Regions from separate parts of the Homo sapiens genome. Here region 2 is linked to region 1. The links come from fine-mapping of genetic effects on gene expression. Tissue or cell type: whole blood. Region 1 holds a variant in brackets; the other region holds the start of a gene. All regions are shown on one strand. Distances are between the middles of the regions.

What was found. PIP is the estimated chance that this variant, and not a neighbour inherited with it, causes the effect.
Region 2: EP300 starts here. The variant in region 1 is fine-mapped to the expression of EP300 in whole blood (TOPMed, PIP 0.97).

What each region holds. Positions count from the first base shown.
Region 1 is chr22:41,236,809-41,245,067 of GRCh38, reverse strand. CHADL (chondroadherin like) reads left to right here and starts at 4,137. Exons shown (of 6, transcript NM_138481.2): 1 at 4,137-4,194; 2 at 5,448-5,625; 3 at 6,183-7,892. The coding sequence starts at 4,187. It overlaps RANGAP1 (Ran GTPase activating protein 1), which reads left to right. Exons shown (of 16, transcript NM_002883.4): 16 at 1-289. RefSeq lists enhancers at 3,533-4,033, 4,034-4,534, 5,984-6,571, 6,572-7,160, 7,161-7,749 and 1 more and silencers at 6,847-7,226, 7,287-7,386. The variant A/C (reference allele first, on the strand shown) is at 4,970.
Region 2 is chr22:41,088,389-41,096,388 of GRCh38, reverse strand. EP300 (EP300 lysine acetyltransferase) reads right to left here and starts at 3,797. Exons shown (of 31, transcript NM_001429.4): 1 at 3,291-3,797. The coding sequence starts at 3,384. It overlaps MIR1281 (microRNA 1281), which reads right to left and starts at 3,876; the gene lies at 3,823-3,876. RefSeq lists an enhancer at 3,107-3,346 and silencers at 3,457-3,556, 3,737-4,506, 4,607-4,896.

The DNA of each region.
Region 1 (8,259 bases):
GATGCCAGCTACAACGTGGATGAACTTTGAAAACATGTTAAATGAAATAAGCCAGACACAAAAGGACAAATATGATTCCATTTAGATGAGGCATCTAGAATAAGCAAATTCAGAGACAAGAAGGTAGAGGTTGCCAGGGCTAGGGGAAGGGTGGAATAGGGAGTGAGGCTGCAAACAGATTCTCTGGGATGATGAAGATGTTCTGGAAATGGAGAGTGGTGATGGTTGCATAACATTGTGAATGTACTTAATGCACTGAATTGTACACATAAAAATGGTTAAAATGATAGATTTCATGTATTAATATATTTTACCTCAGTTAATGTTTTAAAAATTAAGCAAAACTATAGAGCTTCACCCGGGTGTGGTGGCTCACGCCTGTAGTAATCCTAGCACTTTGGGAGGACGAGGCGGGCAGATCACTTGAGCCCAGGAATTCAAGACTGGCCTGGCCAACATGGCAAAACCCTGTCTCTACTAAAAATACAAAAATGAGCTGGGTGTGGTGATGCATGCCTGTAGTCTCAGCTACTTGGGAACCTGAGGTGGGAGGATCACCTGAGCCCAAGAAGTGGATGCTGCAGCAAGCCGTGATCGTGCCACTGCACTCCAGCATGACTGACAGCGAGACCCTGTCTCAAAAAAGAGAGAGAGAGCTTGTAGGAGATAGTGTAAGTGAGTATCTTCAAGGCCTTAGGAGTGAGGAAAAGATGAATAAATTAAGCTGTATTTAACCTCCTTTGCCATTATCGTGGGATGTTCACACAATGGAAATGATGTAGCAGTGAGAACAGGTTTCTGTTTATCAAAATACTCATTAAGGAGTACAAAGGCAACTTACAGACAGGGAGAAAATAATTGCCTAAACTCTCTCTGTATATATATATGGGTGGGGGGGATAACTTTAATTTTTTTCAAACAGGGTCTCATGTTGCCCAGCTTCTATCTCGGCTCACTGCAGCCTCTACCCCCCGGGCTCAGGTGATCCTCCCAGAGAAACATAATCACAGTGTGACACTCTTATGCCCTCACTAGAATGGCTAAAATACAAAATACAGTACCAAGTTTGGTGAGGATTTGGGGCAACTGGAGTGGCTGGCAGATGTGTAAATTGGTACAACCTTTTTTTTTTTTTTTTTTTTTTTTGAGACAGGGTCTTGCCATGTCACCCAGGCTGGGGTGCAGTGGTGTGATCACAGCTCACTGCAGCCTCGACCTCCTGGGCTCACTTAGTCTTCGTGCCTCAGCCTCCCAAGTAGCTGGGACCATGTCACAAGCCACCACGTTCAGCTTTTTTTTGTAAAGACAGGGTCTCATTGTGTTGTCCAGGCTGGTCTTGAATTATTGGGCTCAAGTGATCCTCCCGCCTCAGCTCACTTAACAGGCATGAACCACCATGCCCGGCTACAGTGCTCTTTCTAATAAACCCATGCTGGAAACAACCCAAATGTCTATCACTAGAGGAATGGGTAAGCTACTTGTGGTACGGTGTGGTACCGAGAAGGTAGGAATGGTCTGCCCAAGAAGAAATATTTTAGCATTGACATTGTTTAGACTTGTCAGCACATGATAATAAAAAGCAGAGACCAACTTTAAGTCAGTTCCATTGTGTCTCACTTCTCCACTGACAGCACACCCGCTTACTGCCTGCATTGTGGGCAGACTGCCTCCCGCCCCTGCCCCATGCCACTGTTGTCATATATTTATAGAATGGAAGGCTGGAATGCTGAATTTAAAAAAAAAATTAAAATAGATGAAGCCGGGTGCGGGCTCACACCTGTAAATCCTAGGACTTTGGGAGGTTGAGGCGGGCGGATCACTTGAGGTCAGGAGTTTGTGACCTGCCTGGCCAATATGGTGAGACCCGTCTCTACTAAAAATACAAAAATTAGCTGGGTGTGGTGGCGGGTGCCTGTAATCCCAGCTACTCGGGAAGCTGAAGCAGAATTCCTTGAACCTGGGAGGCGGAGGTTGCAGTGAGCTGAGATCACGCCACTGTACTCTAGCCTGGGCAACGAGAGCTAGACTCCGTCTCAAAAAAAAAATAAAAAGATGATTCTCACTAACATAATATTGAGTGGAAAACGCCAGACACAGCCAGGTGCAGTGGCTCATGCCTGTAATCCTAACGCTTTGGGAGGCCGAGGTGGGAGGATCACTTGTGCCCCGGAGTTCAAGACCAGCCTGGACAACATAGCAAGACCCCAACTCTACAACAAATTTTAAAACCAGCTGGAGGTGGCGGTGCATATCTGGAGGTCCCAGCTGCTTGGGAGGCTGGTATGTCAAGGCCGCAGTGAGCCATGATCACACTTCACTCACACCTGGGCAACAGTGAGACCCTGTCTCAAAAAAAGGACGAAAGAGCACACTGAAGTTCCATTGATTGGAATTTGCCAAGCAAAAAAAGCACAAAGCAGATGGCTGTGTGGCATGGCACTATTTCTTTTTTTAAAATGTTACTGCAGGGCTGGGCGTGGTGACTCATGCCTGTAATCCCAGCACTTTGGGAGATCAAGGCGGGCAGATCACTTGAGGTCAGGAGTTCGGGACCGGCCTGGCCAACATGGCGAAACCCCGTCTCTACTAAAAATGCAAAAATTAACCAGATGTGGTGGTACACATCTGTCATCCCAGCTACTTGGGAAGCTGAGGCAGGAGAATCGCATGAACCAGGGAGGTGGAGGTTGCAGTGAGCTCCAGCCTGGGCGATAAAGTGAGACTCTGTCTCAAAAAACAAAAAACTCCTGCAGTCTAGGAAAAGTACACACAGATGTTCATTGTTTAACATATATAAATATATATAAACATATACATTTATATTTTTATTATATATAAATATATACACACATAAGTGTATACACACACACATACATATATATATATATATATATATATATATATATATATATATATATATATATGTATATATTTTTTTTCTTTTTTGAGACAGTTTCACTCTGTTGCCCAGGCTAGAGTGCAGTGGCGCCATCTCGGCTCTCGCGTTCATGCCATTTGCCTGCCTCAGCCTCCCAAGTAGCTGGGACTACAGGCGCCTGCCACCACACCCGGCTAATTTTTTGTACTTTTAGTAGAGATAGGGTTTCACTGTGTTAGCCAGGATGGTCTTGATCTCGACCTCGTGATCCACCCGCCTCCGCCTCCCAAAGTGCTGGGATTACAGGCGTGAGCCACCGCGCCCGGCCTTTTTTTTTTCTCTTGAGACAGAGTCTGTGTTGCCCAGGCTGGTCTCAAACTCCTGGGCTCAAGTGATCCTCCCACCTCAGCCTCCCAAAGTGCTGGGATTACAGGCATGAGCCACTGTGCCTGACCCCTGTTTCCAATTAAAGGAACAAACAGTAGAAGATGCAATTCCATCAGAAGCAGGAATCTGAAAAATCAAGATACATGAACATTGGCCATGGTCTGGATGTATTATTTAAAAAACAAACACGAGCTTGGGAAGATGCGTATTTGGATATTCTTTGCAATATTGTTTGTAAATAGCAAAAAATTGGAGGTAGCCAATGTCCAAGATGAATGGCTAAGTCAATGTGATACATTTACACAATGGAATACTATATACCACAGAATAATGAGATTCGGAAGAGTCAATTTGGATAACTCCCAGTAATCTGAGGTTAAGTGAAAAAAATGAGTGTCTAGAATCCTGTGTGTCCAGTATTAAACTATTTATGTCAATGTGTAAGCACAAACGGAAGGAAAGGGTCACCTGTTCTGAAGCACCCACTGTGTGCCAGGTGCGGGCCTGAACCCCCACTGTGACCTCAGAGCTACTTATTAATGGGATGTGTTTTTCAGAGACTAGGAAGCAGCCTCTGGGAGGGCAGCCCACATGGCAGGAGGGAGCCCAGGACTGCTGACTCCCGGGCCAGCTGCTGGTGCCCCCTCCCTGTCGGGCTGGCCCAAGGATTCAGGCCGGGGCCTCAGTCCTCGGCTGGGGCAGGCAGGAGGCCCTGTAACTCCAGCCGCTGCTCCCGCCCGCCGCCCGCCCCTTCTTCACCTCAGCCTGGGGAAGCCTGGCTTGCCTGGTCTGCCGACAATGCCTCCCATTCAGCCCTGTCCCAGCTGCCAGGCCTGCGGGCCGTGGAGGGGGGCTCCTGCCAGGCGGGGACAGCCTGTCCCTGCGCTGCGCCTCCAGGCTGGACCAGCAGTTCCAGGCGGCATGGAGGGGTGAGTCTTTGGGCCCGATGGTGCAAGGGGGGATTCAGAGCAGCTCAGTGGCCTCAGGTAAGTCTCTGCCCCCTCTGGGCCTCTCAGAGGCTGGCGGGCAGGGGCTCTGGGGACTTCCTGGGGTTCTCCAGGAAGGGGGTCTCCCAAGGTGGGCTCTGAGACACGTGGCAATGTGGCCACTGCCAGGAACTGGTCCTCTGGGGCTTGTCTGAGAGCCCAGCAGTGGTCCCTGCATTATGAATGCTTGTCGCTTCAGCGATCTGTCCCCATGGGTCCCCTCCCTGGCCTGCCCTGAGGCACAGCCTTCACCACAGGCTCTGGAGAAGCCACCAACTCCAACGCAGGGGCTGGAGCCTGGGACCCAAAGGAGACTCCAAAACAGACGATAGTCCAGTGAGCAGCGAGGGGGAGGCTCCTGGGGGCCGGGGAACAGCCCAGCGATGGGGGAGAGGCCATGCCTGACACAGGCTGAGAACAGAGGGGCCAGCTGGGCAGGGGAGGTGATCTATCATCCTAGCGCTTTGGGAGGCCAAGGTGGGACAATCACTTGAGGCCAGGAGTTCAAGACCAGCCCGGGCAACATAGCGAGACCCTGTCTCTACCAGAAGTAATTAAAAAATTAGCCAGGCGTGGTGGTGTGTGCCTGTAGTCCCAGCTACTCAAGAGGCTGAGGTGAGAGGATCACTTTAGCCCAGGAGGTGAAGGCTGCAGTAAGCCATAGTCATTCCACTGCACTCCAGACTCCAGCCTGGGCAACAGAGCAAGGCTTGTCTCT[A/C]TTTAAACAAACAAACAAAAAAAGACTCAAGGACCCGGACTGGATGCCTCCCTCCTTTCTGGGGGGTACCATTATGCTCCTGCCACCTGGGAGCTGGCATCATATCAGTCTGAGGACAGGCTGCTTCCGAGCCTACCCTGGACCAGAGCCTCACCACAGCCTGAGAACATGCTCTGAACTGGAGTCATTCTCACAGTCAGCAAGTCCTCACTGAGCCATTGGGCAGAGGCAAAGGGACTAACCAGGTCACTTTTCTGAGCCTCGGTTTCCTCCCATGTAAAACAGGACTAATCATAGGACCTCCACTGCGTGGGGGGTGGGGGGCAGGGAGGCTCAGGGTGATTGGCACTTTCCTGGGCCCAAAGGAGGAGGCTCTGAGGGGTTTTTGGGGCAGGAGCTGCACCATGGCTGGGACTAAGTGAGGGACAGCATGTGGCCTCGGCCCTTGTGCACAACAGACTCTCCCTCCCCGTCCCAGGCCCCGGAGCTCCACCCATGTCCCCTTGGTGCTGCCGCTTCTTGTACTTCTGCTGCTGGCCCCGGCTAGGCAGGCCGCCGCCCAGCGCTGCCCACAGGCCTGCATCTGTGACAACTCCAGGCGACACGTTGCCTGCCGGTACCAGAACCTCACTGAGGTGCCAGACGCCATCCCTGAGGTCAGCAGGGCAGGAGCACAGGCACAGAGTGGCAGTGGGGCAAGGTGGGGACCCAGAGGGAGGAGCCTGGGCTGGGCACCAGTTGATCTGCCACCGCCTGCCCGGGAGACCTTGGCAAATTACTTCTCTTTGAGCCTCAGTTTACACTTCTGTAAAATGGGAATAATAAAAACCAGTAACAGGGAGATGATCTATTTAAAATCCTTACTGTGTGAATGGAATAAGTAGGTGACCCATAGATCGATACTGAATTCACTGCAGACCCTGTGGTGGAGAGGCGGGCTGTGGCAGGGTGAGGTGTGGTCTCTGCTCTGCAGAGTCATCAGCTAGTGGAGGAGAGAGAGCGAGGAGGCAGGGACAGCACAGTGTGAAAAATGCCACAGTGGGTGATGCCCAGGGCACTGGAGAGGAAGGCTTCCTGGAGGAGGTGTCAGGGGTCGGATGAAGAGAAATATGGGAAAGGTGACAGGAGAAAAGAGTGTTCCGGGGAAGAAGCAGCACTTGCAAAGGCGGGGTCCCTGCCTGGCTCAGCCCCACTTTCTCCTCGCTGTCCCCAGCTGACCCAGCGGCTGGACCTGCAGGGCAATTTGCTGAAGGTGATCCCCGCAGCCGCCTTCCAGGGCGTGCCTCACCTCACACACCTGGACCTGCGCCACTGCGAGGTGGAGCTGGTGGCCGAGGGCGCCTTCCGTGGCCTGGGCCGCCTGCTCCTGCTCAACCTGGCCTCCAACCACCTGCGTGAGCTGCCCCAGGAGGCGCTGGACGGGCTGGGCTCGTTGCGGCGGCTGGAGCTGGAGGGGAACGCACTGGAGGAGCTGCGGCCGGGGACGTTCGGGGCACTGGGTGCGCTGGCCACGCTAAACCTGGCCCACAACGCCCTGGTTTACCTGCCCGCCATGGCCTTCCAGGGGCTACTGCGCGTCCGCTGGCTGCGGCTGTCGCACAACGCGCTCAGCGTGCTGGCCCCCGAGGCCCTGGCTGGCCTGCCCGCCCTGAGACGGCTCAGCCTACACCACAACGAGCTCCAGGCTCTGCCCGGGCCTGTCTTGTCCCAGGCCCGCGGCCTGGCCCGTCTGGAGCTGGGCCACAACCCGCTCACCTACGCGGGCGAGGAGGACGGGCTGGCGCTGCCCGGCCTGCGGGAGCTGCTGCTGGACGGCGGGGCCCTGCAGGCCCTGGGTCCCAGGGCCTTCGCACACTGTCCGCGCCTGCACACCCTCGACCTCCGCGGGAACCAGCTAGACACCCTGCCCCCGCTGCAGGGCCCGGGCCAGCTGCGCCGGCTGCGGCTGCAGGGGAATCCGCTGTGGTGCGGCTGCCAGGCGCGGCCCCTACTCGAGTGGCTGGCGCGGGCGCGCGTGCGCTCGGACGGCGCGTGCCAGGGGCCGCGGCGCCTGCGGGGCGAGGCTCTGGACGCCCTGCGGCCCTGGGACCTGCGCTGCCCTGGGGACGCGGCGCAGGAAGAGGAAGAGCTGGAAGAGCGGGCTGTGGCCGGGCCCCGCGCCCCTCCGCGCGGCCCTCCGCGCGGCCCCGGGGAGGAGCGGGCAGTCGCGCCTTGCCCTCGCGCCTGCGTGTGCGTCCCCGAGTCCCGGCACAGCAGCTGCGAGGGCTGCGGCCTGCAGGCGGTGCCCCGCGGCTTCCCCAGCGACACCCAGCTCCTGGACCTGAGGCGGAACCACTTCCCCTCGGTGCCCCGAGCGGCCTTCCCCGGCCTGGGCCACCTGGTGTCGCTGCACCTGCAGCACTGCGGCATCGCGGAGCTGGAAGCGGGCGCCCTGGCCGGGCTGGGCCGCCTGATCTACCTGTACCTCTCCGACAACCAGCTCGCAGGCCTCAGCGCTGCTGCCCTTGAAGGGGCTCCCCGCCTCGGCTACCTGTACCTAGAACGCAACCGTTTCCTGCAGGTGCCAGGGGCTGCCCTGCGCGCCCTGCCCAGCCTCTTCTCCCTGCACCTGCAGGACAACGCTGTGGACCGCCTGGCACCTGGGGACCTGGGGAGAACACGGGCCTTGCGCTGGGTCTACCTGAGTGGAAACCGCATCACCGAAGTGTCCCTTGGGGCGCTGGGCCCAGCTCGGGAGCTGGAGAAGCTGCACCTGGACAGGAATCAGCTGCGAGAGGTGCCCACTGGGGCCTTGGAGGGGCTGCCTGCCCTCCTGGAGCTGCAGCTCTCGGGCAACCCACTCAGGGCCTTGCGTGACGGAGCCTTCCAGCCTGTGGGCAGGTCGCTGCAGCACCTCTTCCTGAACAGCAGTGGCCTGGAGCAGGTGGGCACTGGGCATCTGGCGGGGTTGGTGCAGGAGGCGGCACAAGGCCACAGGCAGCGTGCATTCACTCAACAAGCATTTGCCAGCCCCTTGGTGCCAGGTCTCAGCCTGGGCACGGGGACCCTGAGATAAACCAGGACTGCCCCTACCGGTGTGAGTGACAGTCCGGGCAGAACCCAGGCCACACACGGTGCCTGCACAGGACGGTATTGCTGGAGCATAGAGGAGGGAGGAATTTGGGACCATGCAGTCATCTACTGTTTGTACATATTGAGAGCCCCCAAGAGGTTTTGCCATTATTGGGTGGTGGGGTGGACCATGAACTGGGCATCTGGGTGACTTGGACGGAGCAAGTGTTTTGACATCA
Region 2 (8,000 bases), 150 kb after region 1:
CAGGTGCTTTTTAAGTGCATACGGCATTAAGCGTTTACCAAGCAGTGACAAAACGTGTTCACTGAGTAATGAAGACAACAGATGACCCTCATCATTTCCATCACTCAAGATGATCAGAAACAGCTCCAAAAGATATTTCCAGGATTTGCCTAACATTAACTTTTCCAGTCTTTTGGTCATTTTTACAAAAAAAGTTTACAAGTGGCTTTCATAATCTTTTTTTTTTGGAGGGAGAGGGAGAACAAAATGTCATTTCTCAAATGATTTGTTTTACCCTAACCATACCAAATGAAATAAAAATTTCAATGGATCAAATGCAAATACTGAAACAGGAACATAAAGGTGTGAAGGCTACAAATAAGTCTTCTCTTCCCCATCCCAACACGTAAAAGTTGAGTTTAACCTAAGTTATTTGAATCAACCTGGAAATTTTTTAGGAGAATATCTGAGTATTAAACAGCAATTCAGAGGTTGAGATTTAAGTAATAATTTGATTTGTAACACTTTAGCATGTCATCCCATTGGATTCCAGTTTTCTTTCCTTTAAAGCTGACATTAGAACGCTCTTGGTGGATATATTTACATCACGAAATTTGCAAGCCTAAATCACTTTTTTTAAAAAAGTTTTAGGTGCTAGAATTTCGGGCTTATTTCAACCAGTTCTAGACAAAAACCATAATATCAAGAAATAATTTTCTTTCACATTTATAAAATACCCAAGTGACAACTCAAAAATCAAAAGTTACAAGTTTGAAACTTAAAAGTTTTAAGAGGTGATGTGCCTCCAATAAAAGTTACCTGCAAACATATTACAAACTGCAGAATGTCAAAAAAAAAAAATTCAAGATATAATGGTACCTCTGGCCGGGCGGCTCATACCTGTAACCCCAGCACTTCGGGAGGCCAAGGTGGGTGGATCACTTGAGGGCAGGAGATCGAGACCAGCCTGACCAATATGGTGAAATCCTGTCTCAACTAAAAATACAAAAATCAGCCAGGCGTGGTGGTCTGCGCCTGTAGTCCTAGCTACTAGGGAGGCTGAGACAGAACTGCTTTAACCCAGGAGGCAGAGGTTGTAGTGAGATCGCACCACTGCACTCCAGCCTGGGTGACAGAATGAGACTCCATCTCAAAAAAAAAAAAAAAAAAAAAAAAATTACAATGGTACCCAACTTGAAGTAAGTTAACAGAGGGACAGTATTTTCTTTATACTCACTTCTCCCCTCCCCCAAACCCAGACTGGTTACAATTAAAAACCGTACACCAAAGAATTCCTGGAGTAGAATCTTGATTTGGGGAGGGGGGTAAAGTTAACCCTCATTACAAAATTTAGAAAAGTAACTAAGATAAACTCTTAGCATTATGAGTGAATGAATTAATCTCAATGTTGAGTTTTTTTTTAAACTATAAAAGCCCACTTAACACATTTAAAACTCTTGTAATTATTCAAAGATATTTCAAGTAGCAAAACAGACCGACATGGAGAAAGTAGTAGCACACCTGAACAGAAGTATTTAAACAATACAGCTCCAAGACGAAACTGCTCAAATCAGGACTACTCAAAGTACACAAAAAAGTTTCCCCTACGTTCCAAGTCACTGGCTAACTCCAATGTAAAATCGACTACCACGTTACACCAAAACTAAAAAGCAAAAACTACCACATTACACAAATACGAAAGAAACACCACAAAAATCTACAGGTGATTAAGTCTCTAAAGATGATCTAAAAAATGTTTCTGAATGGCACTTTAGTAGGTGCAAAGGAATACAACGACGTTTGTGTATGTGTATGAATTCTGAAGGAAAAAACCAGCTAAAAAAATCCCTGGAGACTACAGTACCTTCATAGAATAGGTACAGATCAAAGTTCATGCATAATCAATGTTACAAGCCTTAGGTAGAGGAACTCGCAAGATTCCTACTTCTCAATTTTTGCAGGTTAACTTAAATTCATTTCACATCTTTCTTATAAAAGCAACGAATTCAAAGCATTAGCTCTGTCTTCCCATTTTCACCCTCTGAAATGAAGCCTATTTAGAAACATGCTCTCGAAGTTCTCTACAAACTCAAAGGGTACATTTAACTCCATTATGCACTCTCACTGGCAGATGGAGGGATGACGCTGAGCCTGCTCTCAGGGAGTTAAAGAGATGCTCCGTAGTAAAGGGGAACATCTTGTGGACTGTCAGATGGCCAGCCATTCTTCATCTTCATTATCCCAGCAAAGAAAAGGTCCTTACCCATCAGGATAACACCATTAAACTAACTGTAAGAAAAGAATGAAGGGATGATGGAAGAAGTCTCCCTGAACTTCTCCTGACAAAGGAGCTAGTCCACAACTGAATGAACTGGTCGTAAAGCTTTTAAACGAAAATCTTGATCTCCAAGTATGTTTAAAAGTGTAAAAAGACAAAGACACACACAAACACCAAACCTAATGCACATTTTAAACTTTTGTACAATCAGTTCACGTTTGTAGTTCATGATTGGAACTCTTTCAACTTCTAACCTTGATTTCCAGGTACGTAACTCCACAAAATTGTTTATCTTATTTCCCCTAAAATGAGAAAGTGACTGCAAACTGCAAAGAACATGCCCCTGTTCTCCCAACCTAAAAACCCAGAGTTTCAGACATTTTGGTCTCACACCAAAGAACTGGGAGATGTGAAATGAACTGCGCTCCATATTGATTCTTAAAGCAAATAAGAAGAAAAAGGAAAAAAAAGCTAAGAATGGTAGGTAAGATAAAAGAATTGTTAAACTTCACCTCTAACCTGAAATCTTGGACCTCGCACACACAAAATCAAGATTTTTTTACACCCTATTCCTCAACAGAAAATATTCTGCAAAGGAGAGAAAATTTCGAAGAGTGGAAAGTAGAGGAAACACAGTAAGTACAGTAAAGAGAAAGGATTCGAAATTCATTTGCCAAGAACAAAAAAAATGAAACTTAAATTGCATAGGAGCTCTTACACACAAATGCATTGGCATTTCCCAAATTAAATTGCATGAGAGCAACAATACAGGCCATTTCTATATAGCACCCACTTACGAGCTCTAATTCCAGAACACACACCGATATGACATAGTGTTGCAATCAATGTATTAGGAGGCAAAGAAAATGGTTGGGCTACTGGACGTCTTCGACCAGCTCATTCAAATACCTTTAAAATTAATTAAGGGGCAGGGAACTAGAGAGAGAGGAAGAAAAAAAAAATGGAAGAATAAAGGCGCACCGAGTAGAAAAGATTAAAGGGAACGTGGAAGGCCGGGGCTGCCGAAACTAACCTGTGCCATCGCTGGCGGACGCCGAGAGGGCCGGAGATGAGAGTTTAGGCCGCTTGGCTGAAGGCGGCCCCGGTTCCACCACATTCTCGGCCATTTTTAATTCTTTCGGAGATACAAGCGAGGAAAACCAGAATCCTCAGGAAATCTCTTCTTCGGCCCGGGGTCCCCGCGCCGCACCCAGGGGTGGGCTGGGGGGCTCCGACGGCACCCGAGGGGGTGGGGGAAGTTCCTTTTTCTCTTCGCCGGGTCGCAGTGGCTGGAGAGGGATGCGGACTCGATAGAAAAGGTAAGGGCAAGTGCGAGGGGCCGGGCCTGGGCCCAAGCCCGGAGGAGGGCACAAGAGCACAAATTCGCCGAGCGCGTCCGCTGCGGCGAATTCCCGAGAACTCGCGGCTCTAGAGGCGCAGTCCCCGGCCCGCCACGGCCGGCCCCTGCCCAGCCGAGGTCTCTCGGAGCTCCGCCGCCGCCATCAACCTCTTCCTCCTCGGCGCTGTCCTCCTCCTTCTCATCGCCACAAGGAGGCGGGGGCGAAAAGGGGGGAGAGGAGGAGGCGACAAGAGACACTCACCTCCTCCCGGTGCCCCCTCCCGGGCCTGCGCCCCCACCCTCCGAACCCTCCTCCTGCCGCCGCGCTCCGCGCCGCCGCCGCCGCACCGGCCCCTAATGGCCGCAGAGAACTCGCCCGAGCCGAGAGCCAGGCTGGCGCCGCCGCCTCACATCGCGCGGCGGCCGGCGGAGGCGCGGCAAGGACGCCGGGAGCGGAGCTGGCCGGACCAGAGGGCCGAGGGGGCCGGGCCGAGCAGCGCCGCCCGCACGCCCGCGCCGACGCGGAGCCCACCGAGGAGGCCCCGCTCCGGCGGCGGCGCAGGCGGCCCCTCCTCGCGCCGCGCTCCCCTCCTTCGCCTTCCTTTCCCGCGGAAAATAAATAAATACGGCCGCTGCTACGGCCCCCACCGCCGGCGGCCAGGTGCTGGGAGCGCCCGCCCCCCGGGGCTCCGTTCGGGGCCGCCCGCGGCGGCGGGAGAAGACGCCGCGGGGCGCGGGGTTATGTAATGGTCCCCCCTAGGCGTCGACGCCGGCCCGGCTGCTGGACCGCGGTGGGGGTGTGTGCGGACGGGAGGGGGCTGGGGGTCGCCTCAGCCCGTGCGCCCCGGGCCCCCTGCCACTGTCTCGGCCCCTGCCGCCTCTCTCCGACCCGACTCCCCTCCGCACTCTCTGGCTCCCGCAGTTAGCACTCAGCCCGGCGTCCTGCTTGCCCACTCTCGCCCGCTCTCTCTCGCCCTCTCTCCCCCCCAGCCTAGCACACAAACAAGATGGCGGCTGTTGTTTCTTCCCTCTGCCGAATCCTCCTTACAGGCTAGCGGTAGCGGCGGCGGCCGGAAATGAGCCAAGGGGGGGTGGAAAAGGGGAGTGGCCGGGCCTCCGGAGGGGGGCGGGGCCTAGGCCCGAGCCGCTCACACAATGGGGGAAGTGGAGCCGGGGGCGGGGCCTGTCCCAATCACGGGATCCGCCCTAGGCCCCAACGCGGTTAGCGCTTCCGCAAACTCCCCCGGCGTCACCCTGTGGCTCCCTTTAAAGGGGAGGATTTTAAGAGTGGGGAGGATTTTAAGGGGGGAGGGGCGGGGGCGGACTCAGAATCTATTTTCAGTCGGTGGATAGTTACGAGGGAAGGTTCCTGCCTTTGGTCTCTGCGTAAGGGACCAGTGGGAACCGGGACGACGGAACCCCGGAGCTGCTCCGAGGAAGGCGCCAAGTCGCCACTCAGGTGGCCAAATGGGAGCGCCCGTAGGGCGGCCCTGCTCTTCGGCCCTTGGGTGGCGGGTCCCCCAAAACCCCGGTCGAATTCACCAGGCAGGGTGTACCCACTGCCGGCTGTTCCGGGCCAGATACCCAGTGCGTCCTCACTTCTCCATTGCCCTCCCAAAGGGAGCAGTTCACATCCAAAAAGCACGTTGATTACGAGTTGTTTTCATTTTCTCTGAATTTTCCTTTTCCTTTTTATGTATTATTTATTTATTTATTTTACAACGAGCATTATTACTCTGACCAGAAAACAAAATCACAGCAGTGGAAAGATGTTTCGGCACCAGACCCAAATTCATTTCTTGCCCTCCACGTGTGTCCATACGCCCTTACCAGGTAGCACTCTCACCGCAGAAGCCTTCAAGTATTTTCCTAAACATGGCTGGGACCTGAAGACATTTCTAGGGTTTGTCTTTTTTTTTTTTCTCGTCCGCTCCCAATAGAACAAGTTAGTAAAAGACCACGTCTAGCCATTGCCTTATCTAATGTAATTATGGGAAAAACAAAAATGTGGTAAAGGTAATGTAAGGATGGAAAAAAGCAAAAATGTAATGGTGAGAGGAAATGCTGGAATATAAAGTCTAGTGTGTGGGACTCCACAGTTTTGCAGCTGAGGTCGGAGACGTGCTTTCAGGTTCCTACACATCACCCTGTGTTTGGCCATGGGTAAATTGGTACTGGAGGAGGTGGCAGGGGTGTAAGTGACCCCGAAAGAAACCCCGAAACCAGTATCTACTGATACGGTTAAAAGCTTTTTCTCGGCCAGGCACGGTGGCTCACGCCTGTAATCCCAGCACTTTGTGAGGCCGAGGCCAGTGGATCACCTGAGGTCAGGAGTTCGAGACAAGCCTGGCCAACATGGTGAAACCCCGTTTCTACTAAAAATACAAAACTTGTCCGGGTGTGGTGGTGCACGCCTGTAATCCTAGCTACTTGGGAGGCTGAGGTAGGAGAATCTCTTAAACCCGGGAAGCGGAGGTTGCAGTGAGCTGAGATTGTGCCATTGCACTCCAGCCTGGGCGACAAGAGCAAAACTCTGTCCCAAAGAAAAAAAAATTTTTTTTCTTTTATTTCATATCTCATGCTCCGTAGCTGGTATTTGCAAATTGTTGGATTTTCTTTGTTTTTTTTTTTATATTGTTTCTGTTTGTTTTTTAAATTAATGTTGGGATGAATAAATAAGAACATAAGAGTGAAGATCCTAATGGAGCAATTGAAGTTGCTGACAGGGATGGAATCTGTCCTCTAATGATCAGGCCTAGATCACCCAAACTGCAGTAGAAAAGCAGGCAAATTGAACCGGGCGTGGTGGCTCACGCTTGTAATCCCAGCACTTTGGGAGGCCGAGGAGGGCGGATCAGGAGGTCAGGAGATTGAGACCATCCTGGCCAACACGGTGAAACCCCGTCTCTACTAAAAACACACACAAAAAAATTAGCTGGGCGTGGTGGCGGGCACCTGTAGTCCTAGCTACTCGGGAGGCTGAGGCAGGAGAATGGCGTGAACCTGGGAGGCAGAGCCTGCAGTGAGCAGAGATCGCCCACTGCACTCCAGCCTGTGCGACAGAGCGAGACTCTGTCTCAAAAAAAAAAAAAAAGGCCAGGTGCGGTGGCTCACGCCTGTAATCCCAGCACTTTGGGAGGCCAAGGCGGGCGGATCACGAGGTCAGGAGATCGAGACCATCCTGGTTAACACGGTGAAACCCCGTCTCTACTAAAAATACAAAAAATTAGCCGGGCACGGTGGCGGGCACCTGTAGTCCCAGCTACTCGGGAGGCTGAGGCAGGAGAATGGCGTGAACCCGGGAGGTGGAGCTTGCAGTGAGCCGAGATCGCGCCACTGCACTCTGGCCTGGGCGAAAGAGCGAGACTCCGTCTCAAAAAAAAAAAAAAAGCAGGCAAATTGAAAAGGACAGAACTTCTTTATCTTAAAGTTGTTACAGGATGAATTCAATGTGTAGGAGTGAGATCAAGATTGGCCTTCAGGGATAATTTTGTTATTTTTAATAGTTTATACCCATATTCAGACTAAGGAGTACAAAGGAAAGAATGTTGGTCGGGCACAGTGTCTCATGCCTGTAATCCCAACGTTTCAGGAGACGAGGGTGGGAGGATCGCTTGAGCCCAGCAAACATAAAGAGACCCCCCTATTCCCCATCTCTACAAAAGTTAAAAAAAAAAAATTACTTAGGCGCGGTGGTGTACACAGCACCTGTAGTCCAGCTACTCCAGATACTGAAATGGGAGAATCACTTCAGCCTGGGAAGTCGAGGCTGCAGTGAGGTGTAATCATGCCACTGCACTACAGCCTGGGCAATAGAGTGAGAGATCCTGTCTCTTAAAATAAATAAATAAATATTTTAAAAAACAAAGCAAAGAAATGAGAAATGTGGAGGACACCTGGAAACTTGCTCTGTCATTTCCTGGTGGGAGATTGCTTGCCCAGTTTTTTTTTTTTGTTTTTTTTTTTGAGACGGAGTCTGGCTCTGTTGCCAGGTTGGAGTGCAATGGCGCCATCTCAGCTCACTGCAACCTCTGCCTCCTGGGTTCAAGTGATTCTCCTGCCTCAGCCTCCCGAGTAGCTGGGACTACAGGTGTGCGCCACCACATCCAGCTAATTTTTGTATTTTTAGTAGAGATGGGGTTTCACCATTTTGGTCAGGATGGTTTAGATCTGTTGACCTCGTGATCTGCCCGCCTTGGCCTCCCAAAGTGCTGGGATGACAGGCGTGAGCCACTGCACCCGGCCTGTTTTTGTTTGTTTGTTTTCTTGTTTTTTTGAGACAGAGCCTTGCTCTGTCACCCAAGCTGTAGTGCAGTGGCATGATCTCCGCTCACTGCAACCTCTGCCTCCCAGGTTTAAGTGATTCTTCCGCCTCAGCCTCCCTGGTAGCTGGGATTACAGGCA